Homo sapiens: one gene and its partner. The protein of the gene in region 2 purifies or fractionates together with the protein of the main gene of each other region. This does not show direct contact. Each region holds a gene or a part of one and is shown on either strand. Other genes may lie near its edges. The genes, in order: ARIH1 and ZNF35.

Evidence for each region.
Region 1: the proteins of ZNF35 (region 2) and ARIH1 purify together in Homo sapiens (affinity purification with mass spectrometry; 2 studies listed by BioGRID and IntAct, with this or other methods). This does not show direct contact.

Annotation. Positions count from the first base shown.
Region 1 is NC_000015.10:72,575,083-72,582,390, forward strand, and holds part of ARIH1 (E3 ubiquitin-protein ligase ARIH1), read left to right. Parts: intron 1-5,648; coding exon 5,649-5,909; intron 5,910-6,992; coding exon 6,993-7,105; intron 7,106-7,308. UniProt on the Homo sapiens protein: E3 ubiquitin-protein ligase, which catalyzes ubiquitination of target proteins together with ubiquitin-conjugating enzyme E2 UBE2L3.
Region 2 is NC_000003.12:44,658,612-44,661,479, reverse strand, and holds the end of ZNF35 (zinc finger protein 35), read right to left. Parts: intron 2,780-2,868; coding exon 1,533-2,779; 3' UTR 689-1,532; downstream 1-688. UniProt on the Homo sapiens protein: May be involved in transcriptional regulation. Involved in cell differentiation and/or proliferation.

The DNA of each region.
Region 1 (7,308 bases), on a different chromosome or scaffold from region 2:
GACCCTATCTCAGAACAAAAAAACAACAAAGAAAGCAAAACAGTTTTATTTACAAAGACAGGTGGCAGCTGGATTTGTCATGCAGGCCAGAGTTTGTATACCCCTGTTCTAAGCAGTCAAGTTTGTTGTCTTTTCCACGCTCCCCAAACTGCTTTCAGGTCGCTGATTACATTTCTCATTCCAGATTCTGGCATTTGATTGGAGAATTTGTCTTGATCAGGCTCAGTGGCTCACGCCTGCAATCCTAGCACTTTGGGATGCTGAGGCGAGAGGATTGAGTGCGGGAGTTTGAGATCAGACTGGGCAACAACTGAGACCCTGTCTCTACAAAAAATTTATTAAAAATTAGCCAGGTATGGTAGTGCACGCTGGCTGAGGTGGGAGGATCACTTGAGCCTGGGAAGACTTCAGTGAGCCATGGTTGTGCCACTGCACTCTAGCTCAAGCAACAGAGCAAGACCCTGTCTCCAAAAAAAAAAAAAAAAAAAAAAAAAGTCTTATTAGCAGTGATGGTATGGGTGTTCTTTTTTCATGTTGAATTTTAGTGAGAAGCAGTTTCAGAATTCTTAGATTAAGTCAAGTCCCATAACATCATACATGTCAATATGGTAAGGGAGGGTTTTCATTTCATTTGGGGAACTTGACAGGCTTGGAAATATTAGTACTTTAGGGGAAGATAAAATGCCAAGCAGATTTTCCACATATTTTCAGATTGGCATAATTTTCCTGTTCATAAGCATTGGTTTGATACTTACCTGACTCTTGAAATAACATGGCTGTGGTTTTGTTGTTTTTTCATTGAGATGAGGGTCTCGCAGTGGCATGATCATAGCTCACTGTAGCCTTGAACTCCTGGGCCCAAGTGGTCCTCCTGCCTCAACCTCTGCATTAGCTGGAACTAGAGGCAGCTTGAGGTGTGCACCACCGCGCCCAACTTGTGTTGGTTTTTTGAAGTGTTTCGTTGTATAATGCTGGATCATGTGGTTAGCTAATTATGTGGCTCAGAATTAGTATTTCTAAGCAAGGGACCAACCATAGGGCCAAGTAGTATCTGTTATGTAGGCTTTAAAACATGGGGAGAGAAAGAGGAGGTAAGGATAAAGGAAAAGAACATACGTGTGTTAGGAACCCCTTTGATAGGGGCCGGGCGCGGTGGCTCATGCCTGTAATCCCAGCACTTTGGGAGGCCGAGGCGGGCGGATCACAAGGTCAGGAGATGGAGACCATCCTGGCTAACACAGTGAAACCCCATCTCTACTAAAAATACAAAAAAATTAGCTGGGCGTGGTGGCGGGCACCTGTAGTCCCACCTACTCCAGAGGCTGAGGCAGGAGAATGGCATGAACCCGGGAGGTGGAGCTTGTGGTGAGCCGAGATTGTGCCACTGCACTCCAGCCTGGGTGACAGAGCAAGACTCTGTCTCAAAAAAAAAAAAAAAAAAAAAAAAACCCTTTGATAGTGGTTGCATTTAGTAAGCATTTATTAATGGTTTTCTGCAAATCAGGTATTGGAAATACTTTATCTTTTTAAAAGTCCATTCCCTCTAGAGATTTATGGTATAATGGTAGAGGCCTCATATGAATAATTATATATTATAATGTAATAATACAAAACAAATCTAAACTAGATACATTGTTGCTTTGATAACAATATACTTTACATATCTCTAAAGACAGACTCTCTTTACATAACTGTAATACCATTACAGTTGACTCTTGAACAATTCAGGGGTTAGGGACACTAACCCGCCCTACCTCCGCAATGGAAAATCCACATACCACTTTTGATTTTCCCAAAACTTACCTGTTTTAATAGCCTACTGATGACCAGAAGCCTTACCGATAACATAGTCAATTAACACATATTTTGTATGTTACATGTTTTATTATACTGTGTGCTTTTTTTTTTTTCTTTTTTTGAGACGGAGTTTGCTCTTGTTACTCAGGCTGGAGTGCCAGTGGCAGGTCTCAGCTCCCTGCAACCTCCACCTCCCGAATTCAAGCGATTCTCCTGCCTCAGCCTCCCAAGTAGTTGGGATTACAGACATGCGCCACCATGCCTGGCTAATTTTTTTGTATTTTTAGTAGAGACGGGATTTCATCATGTTGGTCAGGCTGGTCTTGAACTCCTGACCTCAGGTGATCCACCCACCTCAGCCTCCCATAATGCTGGGATTACAGGCGTGAGCCACTCACTGTGCCTGGCATATACTGTGTTCTTAACAATGAAGTATGCTAGGAAAAAAGTTATTTTAAAAAATTGTGAAGAAGAGAAAATGTGTTTACTTTTTATTAAGTAGAAGTGGATCAGCCGGGCCCAGTGGCTCACGCCTGTAATCTCAGCACTTTGGGAAGCTGAGGTGGGCAGATTGCCTGAGGTTGGGAGTTTGAGACCAGCCTGGCCAACATGGTGAAACCCTATCTCTACTAAAAATACAAAAATTAGCTGGGCGTGGTAGCAGGCGCCTGTAATCCGAGCTACTTGGGAAGATAAGGCAGGAGAATCACTTGAACCCTGGAGGTGGAGGTCGTGGAGAGCCGAGATCGCACCATTGCACTCTAGCCTGTGCGACAGAGTGAGACTCCATCTCAAAACAAAAAACAAACAAACAAAAAAACGGATCATCATAAAGGTCTTCAAGTTGAGTAGGCTGAGGAGGAAAGAAAATACAGGAGGGCTTGGTTTTGCTATATCTCAGGTGGCAGAGGTAGAGGAAGTCGAATGGGATTCAGGAGATGCAGGCACACTTGGTGTAACTTTACAGGAAAACCTTACGAACCGTTTTGCATTTTCATTTCTCTAAAAATGTTTCTGTATAGTAACAATCCTCTTTCCATTTGCTTTAGTTTCAGTGCTGGTATAATAGAAGGGTCCATTCATAAAGGAAGTCCAAAGCAGTCTTAAGTAATCAGAACCCTTCTGCCAAATTGTCTAATGTCAATTTATTTTCTGGCACTGCTTCTTTAGTGTCTTCTTCCTCATCATCTGGCACTGGTTTGGAAGCAGCTCATCTCCATCAAGTGGTCTTTTAATTCCTCTGGTGTGGTGTCTGTTAGCTAACCCTTCACCTTCCACGTTTTCTTTGCCATATCCACAGTCTCTTTCGTGATTTCCTTGATGGGCTCTGTTGTAGATACTGCGAAGTCACGCGCAACATCTGGACACAGTTTTCTCTACCAGGAGTTTATTGTTTCAGTCTTGATGATGCCATGGTTTTTTCTATAACAACGATGACATCTTCAGTGGTGCTCTCCTTCCAGACTTCCATGATGTTCTGTGGGGGTTCTCTTCGATAGCATTGACAGTCCCTTCCAGAGTACCGTGTGCATCTTTACGTTTGTTTACATTTCTCTCAATGTGAATGGTACCATATACGGTCTGTAAGAGTTTGTGTGCATAAGTTTTGATAAATCTCAACTTTTTATTAATAGATTTATGTATATTTTATCGTAGTAAATCATAAGATAGGCTACATATGTCTTATGCATTCATGACAACTCTTTTTCTTAATTTTGGTTTGTCCGCAAGTGTTTTCAAATTGTTGGCAAACCTCCAAAAAATATTTCAATATATTTATTGAAAAAAATCCACATATAAAGTAGACTTACAGTTTAATCCTGTGTTGTTCAAGGGTCAACTGTATATGTTTTAAAGCAATACTCTGTTGGTATCAACTATCTATTGTTCAAATATCCCCAATTATCTTAAATTTTGCTTTTTTTTGTTTTTTGGTGTTTTGTTTTTTTTTTTCAGAGGTAGAGTCTCGTTCTCTCCCCAAGGCTGGAGTGCAGTGGTGCAACTCGGCAATTCTCCTGCCTCAGCCTCCCAAGTAGATGGGATTACAGGCACATGCCACCACGCCCAGCTAATTTTTTGTATTTTAGTAGATACAGGGTTTCACTGTGTTGCCCAGGCTGGCTCAAACTCCTGAGCTCAGGCAATCCACCCGCCTCAGCCTCCCAAAGTGCTAGGATTACAGGCATGAGCCACCACACCCAGCCTATCTTAAATTTTCTTTTATAGTTGGTTCAAATTGGGATCCACATAGGTCCACAAATTGGATTTAATTGATATCTCTTGAGTCTCCTCTACCTGTTGTTCCTTCTCTTCCCCCCTCCTTGCTTTTTTTTCTTTGTTGAAGAAACTAGATCGTGTTGTCCTGTAGAGTTTCCCACATTATGGATTTTGCTGGTTGCAACTGCATGGTGTCATTTAATAGGTTCTTCTATCCCTGCATTTTCTGCACTGGTGATTAATTCAAGAAACTTGATCAAATTCAGATTCAGTGGTTGGGGGGGGAGCCCAGAATACTTAATTGATTATACTTTCTATTGTATTATATCAGGAGTTACATGGTATGTAGTTGCCACTGTAGTTTTCTACTTAAAAATATCTCTGCTTTTTGCTTGTTTTACATCTTGTGGCATACTGTAGAACAGTGCCATCCAGTAGAACATTTTTGTAATGATGTAAATGTTCTTTATCACCAGTGTCTAATTTGGTAGTCACTAAGCACATGTGACTATTGAGCGATGAGGAACTGAATTTTTAGTTTCTTAAATTGAATTTTAAGTAGTCAGGTGTGGCTTGTGGCTACTGTATTGGAAAGTACAATTAATAGGACATTTTTCAAGAGTATTAAATAACAAAAGTAGCAGTAGATGTCTATTCCTGATTTTAGCCTAGATCACAGTACTGTTTCATCAGTAAATCAGCTTTTTAAATTATTAATATTTTTAATGGACAAATCATAATTATACACATTTATGGAGTACAGTGGAATGTTTTGAAATATGTAAACAATGCAATGATTAAATCAAACTAATTGTTGTATTGCCTTGCCTTAACATTTTTATGGTGAGACATTTGAAATGATACTTATTTTGAAATATATATTATTATTGACTATATTCACCCTGTTGTGCAATAAATCTCAAAACTTACTCATCCAGTCTATCTGAAACTTTGTACTCTTTGGTCACCAACTCCCCATTCCCTCCCTTCCTACCCCTCTATCCCCGCAAGCCTCTGGTAACCGTCATTATACTCTGTATGTCTGTGAGTTCAACTTTTTTAGTTTCTACATATAAGCGAGATCATGTAGTATTTCTTTTCTGTGCCTGGCTTATTTCACTTAGTGTAATGTCCTCCAGGTTCATCCATGTTGTCACAACAGAATTCCTTTTTTGAGGCTGAGTACTCGTGTGTGTGTGTACATACATGACGTTTTCTTTCTGTGTTCATCCATTGATGGACACTTTACATGGATTCCATGTCTTGGCTATTGTGAATAATGCTGTAGTGAATGTGAGAGTACAGAGATACCTTTGACATACTGATTTCAATTCCTTTTCATATATACACAGTAGTGGGATTGCTGGATTCTGTGGTGGTTTTGTTTTCAGTTTTTTAAGGAACCTCCCCATACCATTTTCCATAATGGCTATACTAATTTACATTCCCATCAACAGTGTATCAAGAGTCTCCTTCTTTCTTTATCTTTGCCAAGACTTATCTTTCATCTTTTTGATAAAAACCATTCTAACAGGTGTGAAGTGAGACTTCATTATGGTTTTAATTTGATAATCAGCTTTTATGTACAGTTTATGTGTTATAATTATATCACCCAATTTTTCTTAATGGGACAGCGATCTAGGGCAGCCCTGCAGAGGTACCTGTTCTACTGTAATCGCTATATGAACCACATGCAGAGCCTGCGCTTTGAGCACAAACTATATGCTCAGGTGAAACAGAAAATGGAGGAGATGCAGCAGCACAACATGTCCTGGATTGAGGTGCAGTTCCTGAAGAAGGCAGTTGATGTCCTCTGCCAGTGTCGTGCCACACTCATGTACACTTATGTCTTCGCTTTCTACCTCAAAAAGAATAACCAGTCCATTATCTTTGAGGTAGGAGTAGTTCTGGGTGAGGAAAAAGCCCACCTTGTATCATAGGTCTACCTGATCTTTCATATATAAGATACAGAGTTTTCAGGGTTCTTGTTTGTTCAGAACATGTAGGTAGACGAATGTATTTATTACAAAGATACAAGAAATTTCTATTTCTTGTCCTAAATTATATTCAGATCGATGTGGTTTAGCCAGCTAGTGATTAGGTATGCAGGTTCTGGAGTCAGCCCTAGATTTTAATCTTTACTTCATTATGTTTTAGCTCTGTTGATTTGGAGCAAATTCCTTAACCTCTTATTTGTCCATTTTAAAGTGAGGATAGTACCTTTCTAGGTTGTTATGAGGTTTAAGTGAGACAATTTGTGTTTTATGTGAGACAATTTGTGTTAATTGCTATACGGCACCTGGAACATCATAAGTTCTCAATAAAAGCCTTTATTCAGGCTAAACTAACCCTGCAATATTAGAAGTTAATGTGGTGGTTATCTTTAGTGGAGAAATAATGACTAAAAAGCCAGCTTTTAGCAGTAAAGGTTTTCTCAAGTAAAGATGTTCATTTAAAATTGATGCATAAAACATTGATATCTGTATATGACTAGACAATAAGACTGACTAGCAGATGGGACTTCAGTTGGGTAACAGGTACAAAACTAGCCATAGTGGTAAAGGATGATACAATTTGAATCTTCCATACAGTGTTTTCTTATAAGAAATAAGTATAGCCAGATGTAAGCAATAATAGGTTTCTATTTTTTCTCATTTACCTTTGAGTTTTCAGCAAAGAGCAGCTCTCAGAACGAGAAGATTCCAAAAGACATTTTAAATCCTTTCAAATGGTCTTCAGTATTCTTCCAAAAGTAATGGGTGAAATCTTTCGTTCTTTTAACATTTAAAAAATTGTTCTGGAAAAGAACAAACAAGTTATTAGAGATGAAAGCCCATAGAGCTTTACAGGTGCAGTTAAACCACCTATGAAAGTTACAGAATGAGTGTTGAGAGCAGTCTGTAGTCAACAAAACAGTGAAAATGGTTTATCTTTTAGCTTTATTTTGAAGCCAAAATTTACTTTCATTCTTCTTACAGAATAACCAAGCAGATCTAGAGAATGCCACAGAGGTGCTCTCGGGCTACCTTGAACGAGATATTTCCCAAGATTCTCTGCAGGATATAAAGCAGAAAGTACAAGACAAGTACAGGTAATTTTTTTTTAAGCTGTTGAATAAAACTTTCTGCCAGTGATGATCCTTACTGGTAAAGTTCAGTGATAGTGAAACTGGGTTTAGCATATCCAGCAACTGAGCTTTTGCCATGTTTCTCACAGATTGCTTCTGTCCGTTGGGCACTAAATTGCAGGTAATAGTATTGGTGAAGCATACATAGAGAAGGAATTCAGCCATTT
Region 2 (2,868 bases):
CACAGTGCCTAAGGCACACTCCAAACATCTGTCACATCAGCTTCCTCACCTGAAAAATGGGACTACACACCCCTTTCTTTGTCTCCCCTACAGGTCTGCATGGGGATTACAGGTGTTTGGCAAGTGGCATGGCAGAACAGAGAATCTAGATTCAGGACCTGGACTTGGATATAAGCTGTCACTTGTTACTTGGCCTTGCACTAAATGACCATTCTCAGGTAAATGGGCAACCACCTGTTTCAGTGTTGTAAGGACTGAGGTAGGTGATCTATGTGAAAGCGTGAGATACGTGCCAGGTATCATGATCAATACATAAGGGTACACAACAAAGAATAAAAGTTCTATATAAATACAAGGCAATATTATTACATAACTCTACCTATTGCATAGTTTTATAAATCATTTTTCCAGGAGTAAAGGCTGAATGGTAACAAAGATATCTTACCTTGGCCAGTTTCTTCATCCTTCTAAAAGTTTTTCATATTCCAATACCTCTGAATTTCTCAAAAAATCAAATTAAGACCTTAGGAATCTTATTTCCACCTCCCCTCTCCCATCACTTTCCCTCTTTGGTCTTCTCAGAATGAGAAGAGCTCCACTATTTCTTCTAAACACCATCCAGAATGTGAGAATGAAACCCAAACTGAGACCCCTGGCTGGACTTGAGCAGAATGACAGCAGAGACAACTGGGGCATGCCTCTAGGCAAGCTTTATTCTTTGACTCCTTCATCCAGGAAGGGGCTGTTAGTTGCATCTCACCCAAATGGAATGCGATGGGAATTGGGGGCTTGAGTTGTTTGGAGAAGGAGCTGTTGATCTTGGCAAATGAATATAGCTGGTGTGTGGTGTCCATCAATCCTTGAGTGCTTGGCCATGGAGACTAGGGAATGGTCAGAACAGACCCAGAGGTCCCCAGATCTTTACAATACCAAGGTTCAGGAGGTATAGACAGTAAGGAAAAAGTCCATTTCCTATTTCTGTCCATTTTCAGTAAAGTTTTTGTTTTGACTGGCTTTTAAAAAATTACCTAGGAAATGGAAAGCTTATAAACATTCGTAAGTGAATTGTTGAACTGCTACCCCAAGTGGTTTCCTTACCCAGTCACCACTTAACCAGAAATATTAGAATACACGGTTCAACCAGAATTCAACCAGGCAGATAACCTGCCTGTTGCTCAAGCAATCATCAGAGTTTTAAAAAACAAAATTAAGCAAAAAAGACCTTTCCCCAAATAGCATCATTACCACTTAGCTTTGTACGACCCATTCCTAGGAAAGCCACATTCCACTTCAGAGAACATGACCGCTTAAGGTACAGTTAAAACAAAGTCCTTGCCTTTAGGTGCTTACTTTTTGTTTTAAATTAGCCTCTGAAATGCTTTTCTTGTGTCTTCTGCTGCATTCCTGAAAACTATAACTTTTAAGGACACAGCCCTCACTTTTATAGAGGAGGAAGAAAACAGCAAAGAGGTGTCTCATTAGGGAGGCAGAAGGTTATGACCAATGCTGGAGGTCTTCCTCTTCCTTACTTGTTATTCAACAAGATGGGTTCTATGGTGTCGCATGAGGTGTGAGTTGGAAATGAAAGCTGCACCACACTTCTCACATTCATAGGGCTTCTCCCCAGTGTGGGTTCTCTGGTGCACGGTGAGGCTCGACCTCTGTCTGAAGGCCTTCCCACACTCATTACATGTGTAAGGTTTTTCTCCATTATGAATTCTCTGATGAATAAGTAGGTATGAGCTACATGTGAAGGCCTTCCCACATTCATTACACACGTAAGGAAGATCTCCACTGTGAATTCTCTGGTGGACAATAAGGCAAGAGAGCTGACTGAAGGCTTTCCCACATTCGCTGCAGTCGTAAGGTTTCTCTGCAGTGTGAATTCTCTGGTGCACAATAAGGTGTGAAAAACAACTAAAGGCTTTCCCACACTCTTTACACTCATATGGCTTCTCACCAGTATGGCTTCGCTGATGTACAATAAGATTTGCACTCTGGGTAAAGGCTTTGCCACAGTCGTTACAGGCAAAGGGCTTCTCCCCAGTGTGGATCCTCTGGTGGACAATGAGGTTTGAGCTCCTAGTAAATGTTTTCCCACATTCATTACATTCATAGCATTTTTCCGTAATGTGGACTTTCTGGTGCCGAGCAAGTTGTGAGCTGTAACTAAAGGCTTTCTCACATTCATTGCACTTAAAAGTTTTTTCTAAGGAGTGGATTTTTTGATGTACAGTCAGATTTGAACTCTGAGTGAAGGCTTTCCCACATTTTGAGCAAACATAAGGTTTCTGTCCAGTGTGGATTCTCTGATGCACAACGAGGTTTGCACTCTGAATGAAGGCCTTCCCACACTCATGACATTCAAAGGGTTTCTCTCCAGTGTGGATTCGCTGATGCACAACGAGGTTTGCACTCTGACTAAATCCTTTCCCACACACGCTACACGTAAAAGGCTTTTGTCCAAGCTGGGTTTTTGGATTTTTAACAGCGCCAGAATTAAGGCTATATTTTCCTCCAGATTTCTTACATTTCTGGTTTTCCTCTTCTTTGAAGCTTTCAGGTAAGTGACAGTCATTCACTATCACTTGTCTGAAATCTTTCTTTTCTCTCTTTATTCTCTGCCTCTTTAACATGTTTCCCTTTTCACAAGCTTCTCCTAACTCAGGTCCTTGAGGATCAGCTTTCTGGATTCTTTCTGATATGATGAGGGGTTTTTCAGCTTCCTCACATATCTCAGTTTTTGGAACCAGTAACTGTAGGTTCTTGGTTTCAGCACCTGAACCAAGAAACAGAAAATACAAATGTTAGCTTTCTCTGGCCTAGAAAAAGAATAGGATCATCAAGTCATAAAACGAAGTATGTGAT